Linked DNA regions of Homo sapiens. The protein of the gene in region 2 purifies or fractionates together with the protein of the main gene of each other region. This does not show direct contact. Each region holds a gene or a part of one and is shown on either strand. Other genes may lie near its edges.

What was found.
Region 1: the proteins of EGLN1 (region 2) and FKBP5 purify together in Homo sapiens (affinity purification with mass spectrometry; 2 studies listed by BioGRID and IntAct, with this or other methods). This does not show direct contact.

What each region holds. Positions count from the first base shown.
Region 1 is NC_000006.12:35,636,916-35,640,415, reverse strand, and holds part of FKBP5 (peptidyl-prolyl cis-trans isomerase FKBP5), read left to right. Parts: intron 1-3,257; coding exon 3,258-3,402; intron 3,403-3,500. UniProt on the Homo sapiens protein: Immunophilin protein with PPIase and co-chaperone activities. Component of unligated steroid receptors heterocomplexes through interaction with heat-shock protein 90 (HSP90).
Region 2 is NC_000001.11:231,412,288-231,415,787, reverse strand, and holds part of EGLN1 (egl nine homolog 1), read left to right. Parts: intron 1-3,500. UniProt on the Homo sapiens protein: Cellular oxygen sensor that catalyzes, under normoxic conditions, the post-translational formation of 4-hydroxyproline in hypoxia-inducible factor (HIF) alpha proteins.

The DNA.
Region 1 (3,500 bases), on a different chromosome or scaffold from region 2:
GTATAGGTGTACCATTTTTTTTCTTGTATACCTTTTATTACTGTACCTTTTTCTATGTTGAGATATGCTTAGATACACAAATACCACTGTTTTACAATTGCCTGCAGTATTCAGTGCAGTAACACAATGTACAGGTTTGTAGCCTTGGAGCAGTAGGCCAAACCACCTAACGTGGGTGTGTACAAGTAGGCCAGGCCATCTAGGTTTGTGTAAGTACACTCTGCGATGTTCACATAAGGATGAAATCATCTAAGAACACATTTCTCAGAACATATCCCTGTCCTTAAGCGATGCATGACTGTGTGTGTTTCTTCACTCTATAGTTAATCATTTTCACGTGCATTTCTTTTGTTTTGTTTCTTACAACAATGTGGTGAGACAATCAGAGCATCTCTTGATTCTTCCATCTTATAAGTGAATAAACTGAATCTGAGAAAGGTTAAGTGGCTTTAGTCACATTAAATAGTTATTTCTCCTACACCATTGTTAACACATGTAAGTTTTGTATAGTTAAGTTTTGTTTTTCCTGAAAAGATTATCTGATGCATTCTGAATATTACCAGGATGCTGAGTTTTAATATCTCTTGTGCCAGCAGTAGCAAGTAAGAATTTTTGTTTTGTATAACTTTGCTTATGTGAAAGCCTTCTGTGCCTGGATCTCTTCTGAATATATGTGAATTGCTATTATGTGCTAAGTCAAATTTTGGGGACTTGCAGCTATAGAATAAGGGCTTTATGCTATAGATTTACATCCTATTGTCTTTTTTTAGAAGGCTTCTCAACCTTGTAGCTATAGTTACTCATCCTAAATTCCAGGAAGCTTCTAGAAACAGTGGAGACTTTGCAGGCTGTCCTCAGCATCTCCCTGCCTCTGTTTACGACTTACCCTTTCATCTTTTCAGAGTGCCCATGCCCAGAGAACATGATCCCCAACTTGCCTCAGACCCTGTTCTGTTCTAGGGAGTAAATCTAATTGCAAGATTTTTAGGCTTATTAAGAAACATTTGAGATTTGAAGCCCTTTAAATTATATCATTTATCATTGTCTAGAGCCTCGGATTTCACCATGAGGCTTTTGGTTAAGATTTAAATAGGTCTAGTAACTGTGCAAGCTAGGGCAATTTAGTTAACCTCTCTGTGATTAAGTTCCTGTTTGTAAAATTAGAATAATAATGCCATCAACCTCATAGAGTTATTAGGATTAGGTGAAGCACTTAGCATAGTGCCTGTCCTATAGTAATCTATCTTATTAACTATTACGTATTTTTAAAAAAAGAACCAGTGCTGGTTTGGAAATTCAGTAACTATCTGAGGAAGATAAAAGATGGATTTATATTTTAAAAATGAATAGAACCTAGATTGTGTTCTTAAGGCAACTCTAGATTTAGGTACAAATTCATCTTGCTAGGGAAGCCTGAAGTGATACCATAGTACCACTTGCTGGTGTGGATGGCTCTCTGACTCTCTGGTAGCCATTCATCCCACATGCCCAGTTACTGTTTATAGTCCTAGAAATGCAGATTCCTTCCACGTGAGGCTTACAGTTGAGCATAGCCTCCCAAATACCACATGCAGTTCGTGAACATGAGCACTTGTAGAATATTGTGTAATATCTTTTAGATTAATGTTTTGAGACTTTTTTTTTCTTTTGAAGTCCTAGAAGGGCAGTAGTGTTTCTTTGCCTTTAAAGAATATTTGGGGCTGGGTGCGATAGCTTATACCAGTAATCTCAGCACTTTAGGAGGCTGAGGCGGGAGAATCATTGGAACTCAGGAGTTCCAAACCAGCCTGGGCAATGTAGCAAGATCTCATCTCTACTAAAAATAAAAAAATTTGCCAGGCGTGGTGGCATGTGCCTGTAGTCTCTGCTACTCGGGAGGCTGAGGTGGGATGATCACTTGAGCTGAGTGATAGAGGCTACAGTGAGCTATGATTGTACCACCGCATGCACTCTAGCCTGGGTAAAAGAGCAAGACCCTGTCTCAAAAAATAAAATAAAGATGTTTGGGCTTTTGAGTTAAGAAAGCTGTGGAATTTAAGTTCACAGTGTTTATGTGATATTTATGTTAGGTGGACGGTATACTTGTAAAAAAAGAATTTAGGAGCAAATAATCGAATTATTTAAATAAAACTCAAAGCAAACTCCTTCCCCAAAAAGATGTTCATCAGATGTTAGCTACCATCCTCTGTTATCTACCAAAAATGATTAATTTGGCATAGATTACAAATTAACAAATTACACCATCACACACCTGGGTTTGATTTTCTTTTCCCAGAACTGACCAAATACATTAGCAGCTTGCTCTGCCAAGAACAAAATAAATACACTGGATTTTACAGTAGTTAAATACTTTACTAGAAAACAAGTTATTCAGTATCATATCAAGCAGTGCAATGATACTCATGTTTTTTACAGATAGACTATGTTTCAAATAATAGGAAATGTAACCTGTTTTACCAGGAAATTGGGCTTTCTGAAAATAAACAAGCAGAATCTAGTCAGGAGCTAATGTTTTTAGCAAAGGAGGGAAATAAAATTACACCTTTGAAGCTTTGCTTAAGCTTCTTTTTGAATATTTTAAAAGTCCACCATTCTTTCTGGTCTAAGTCCGTGTGTATATGGACTAGCTCACAAGCCTGTGTTAGAGAGTTTAGTGTCGGGCGCGGTGGCTCATGCTTGTAATCCCAGCACTTTGGGAGGCTGAGGCGGGTGGATCACGAGGTCAGGAGTTCGAGACCAGCCTGGCCAACATGGTGAAACCCCATCTCTACTAAAAATACAAAAATTAGCTGAGCACGGAGGCGCACGCCTGTAATCCCAGCTACTCGGGAGGCTGAGGCAGGAGAATTGCTTCAACCTGGGAGGCAGAGGTTGCAGTGAGCCGAGATCGTGCCATTGCACTCCAGCCTGGGCGACAGGGCAAGACTCCGTCTCAAAAAAAAAAAAAAAAAAAAAAAAGAGTTTACTGTCAAAATATAGGGCATTAAACCAATGAACAGGATTTATTGGTTAATTCTTTGAAGGAATAAATAGTGCGATTAGCAATAAAAGTAGATATAACATAAAAGACAAGTTGGTAAAGGACAGTTTTCTAACAATGAGTTATTGTGAGGAATGAAGGGAGGCATTAGAAAGAATGGATAATAGTATATTTGCATATCTGCCTGGATGTCTTGGGATGGACTGTGTGACCTTTTTATTCTCTGATTACAAGTAAAAAGTTTGACCTCCTTTTTCTTAATGTTTGTCTTTTCTAGATTGTCAAAAGAGTGGGGAATGGTGAGGAAACGCCGATGATTGGAGACAAAGTTTATGTCCATTACAAAGGAAAATTGTCAAATGGAAAGAAGTTTGATTCCAGTCATGATAGAAATGAACCATTTGTCTTTAGTCTTGGCAAAGGTAAGAGGGTATTTTTTTGAGTTGTGTTTTACTTAGCTTTATTACTATTTGTAATATATAGGAGCAGAGGATTCTATCCTTTCTAAAAGTAAAGAAAT
Region 2 (3,500 bases):
GTATCCTTAGTCCAGTTTCTTAATTTCTTGAGTCGTCAGTTGCTCCGTTTATAAAATGGTGTTCAGTGATACCTGTGTTTTTAGCTTCTCAGGCTTGTTGTGAGGTGAACATATAATGTTTCATGTAAAGCACCTTTTAGATGGTAAAGCGCTATGCAGAACTGTTCTTAACTATTACTTCTCCCATTTAAAAAATTTGCTATCTTTCTGATTCTTTTAAGAATTCTGTGCTTTCCCTGTCTCATTCCCCTCCGATAAACTGGAGAAAAAAGGGCTTAGAATGATCACCCATTTTTTTACCTAACCACTTTTCCTGCATTTACACATTTTTTTTTAAAAGAGAAGAAATAACATTTTTTTAAGAGAAAAAAGTCCCAGAGAGATTAACTTCTTCAAGGTCATAGAGCTGGTGACAAAATCAACAGACCTTTGATTTAGTTCATTCATATCTGTAACTTTATACATATTTCTACTTAACTAATTTTGGCATATTTTACGCTTTTTTTTTTTTTTTTTTAAAGGACAGGGCCTAACATGCCCAGGCTGGAGTGCAGTGGTGCAATTATGGCTTACTGCAGCCTCCAGCTCCTGGGCTCAAACAATCCTCCCACTTGAGTCTCCGTAGTAGCTGGGACTACAGGCATGTGTCACCACACCTGGATAATTTCTTAAATTTTTTTGTAGAGACGGGATCTCGTTATGTTGTCTAGGCTGGTCTAGAACTGTTGGCCTCAAATGATCCTCCTGCCTTGGTCTCCCAAAGTGCTGGCTCATGCCTGTAATCCTAGCACTTTGGGAGGCCAGGGTGGGCGGATTTGCTTGAGCCCAGGAGTTCCAGACCAGGGGGCAACGTGGTGAAACCCATCTCTAAAAACAATACAAAAATTAACCAGGCATGGTGGCACATGTCTGTAGTCCCAGCTTCTTGAGGGGCTGAGGTGGGAGGATCGCTTGAGCCTGGGAGGTAGAGGTTGCAGTGAGCTGTGATTGCACCACTGCACTTCATCCAGCCTGGGTGACAGCGAGAGCCTGTCTCAAAAAAAAAAAAAAAAAAGTGCTGGGATTACAGGTATGAGCCATCGCACTGGGCCTCTGCCATTTTTGAGAATATGCTTGAACATTCGAGACTTTCTTCTCCCTTTTGCTTCTGTCATTCTACATGTTGGCTTATCTGACATTCTAGTTTAAATTTTTCTCCTACCTAATTTTCTTAAATGTTCTTTATCCATCTGTCTTTCCTCTGATACTATTTAAAGCCGTTTGCCCTGAAGTAGGCCTACCCTCTCTTGTTTCTTTAGTAGGAGCTGTCTTCCCACTCTGTGTTTCTGAGTGACAGTTTACTCCTGTTTTCCTTTCCCTTTTCTCTCCCATCAGGCTTGAAATCTTTGTTCTTCTTCCATGTTTTCTGAAGCCTGTGCCTTTCTGATATGCCTTTGGATTGATGTTGTCAGCTTAGTTGTTTTTGTTTAATTTTTCACTTTAGGCCTTTAAAGCTACCCCAACTATTTCAGTCTCCCTTTTATTCTAGCACATTCTTGGGCAGTTTCTTTTTCTTAGATTTTACTTCTGTGCTTACATTCCACCTTCTTTTCCACTGTGCCCTCGTTTCCACACTTGGAACATTGTCTGTGACTACATGATGGCATTCAGATAATTTACTAAGTCCATTTTCAGAGCTTGTCTTTGCCTTTTATTTCAGCTAAATCTCTTCTAAAAAAAAATTGATATAGATGGTTAACCAAAATCTTCTCTTACAACAGTTTATTTCATGCCTTATTTCGTAGTCAAAACTCAACTTTTCTGCCACCTTTGTACTTCATAATCACATTTTTCCATAACCAATTCAGAATTAGTTTCATTTCTGAAGAGCTTGGACAGTGTCTGTTGACTTGAGATCCCCATAAAGTTTTCATGAGTTTGGAATTCTCTTTTTTCTTATTCAGTGTTCCAGGTCCCATTTCTTTACCAAAGCAAAATACGTGTACTCTTTACCCTTTGTTATATTTTCTGAGTCCTGTTTTGATACTATTTTCACTCATTTGTTCATTCAACAAATGTTGAGTACCCTGCACATACAGGCCCTGTTCTAGGAGCTAGGGTGTCCTGAATAACAACAAAAAGCCCCCCTTCTCATGGACCTTATCTTCTAGTTGGAGGAAGTGTGGGGTGGGGAGGGACAGTCAATAAACAGATGTACAAGTAATACATGGCACGTTAGGTGGTAAATATTAAGATGGAGAATAAGATAAGGACAGAGTGACTAGGGAGTACTCTTTTAGATAAGATTGGTAAAATAAGGTGACATTTAAATAGTGACTTGAATGAAGTGGGAAATTAGTTATGTGGATATGTGGAAGAGGAGCATTTTCAGGAATGGTATTAAATAGCAAATACAGAGGCCCTAACTTGAAATGTGTTTGGTGTGTTCAGAAAACAGCAAGCACGGCACTTTGGGAGGTCGAGGTGGGCGGATCACTTGAGGTCAGGAGTTCGAGACCAGCCTGGCCAACATGGTGAAACCTCACCTCTACTAAAAATACAAAAATTAGCCAGGCGTGATGACATCCGCCTGTAGTCCCAGCTACTCTGGAGGCTGAGGCAGGAGAATTACTTGAACCCAGGAGGTGGAGCTTGCAGTGAGCCAAGATGATGCCACCGCACTCCAACCTGGGCAGCAGCGTGAGACTCTGTCTCAAAAAAAGAAACAGAAAACAGCAAGGAAACCACTGTGGTTTTAGTGGAAGGAGTAAAGGATATGTGATTGATGTAGTAGGATAGGAAATGAGATCAGTTTGTGTAGGATATATTCTGGATATATTTTGAAAGTAGAATCAAATGAGATTTGCTGATACATTAGATGTGGGGTATGAAAGAATGGAAGAGTCATGAATGACTTAAAGGGTTTTGGCTTGAGCGATTGGAAGGAAATTATTGTTTTATTTTGACCTAAGTCTTCTGCTTTTCTTCTCTTGCCCCCACTTTTTCAGTGTTGCCATTTATGATAGCTTGCTGACACTTACTTCCCAGCCAAGCAACAAGAAAAAAGTTATATGTTCTATATTTTCACATTCCTTCAAATTGGCTGTGCTAGCTACTACTACTGTTGACCTTCTAGCCCCATCCTTTCTTCTCTAGAGGTTTTAAGGTTTCTCTGTGCAGTATGCTTGTATCAGCTCTACCAGTGGAACCGCCTTCAGGAATTATTGCAGGAAACCTTGCAACACTTTTAGTGTTGTCTATAAGTATGTCTGTGCTTCCTTGCATGAACCACTCATTCAAGATGGCTTGTGAATCCACGTAAAAAGAAATATACGAAGTTTGAACTTTAGGGGAACATTAGAGAAAATTGAATGGTTCAACATAAGGGAAGCATAGATTTAGATTCAATGTCAAAATGAAGTCAGAAATAAAACATCTTCATTTAAACCTACTGTTGAAAATAAAACTGTTACAGAAAATTGGGAAGAATGGAATTACCGTAAAATATCAAAAATAGTTCC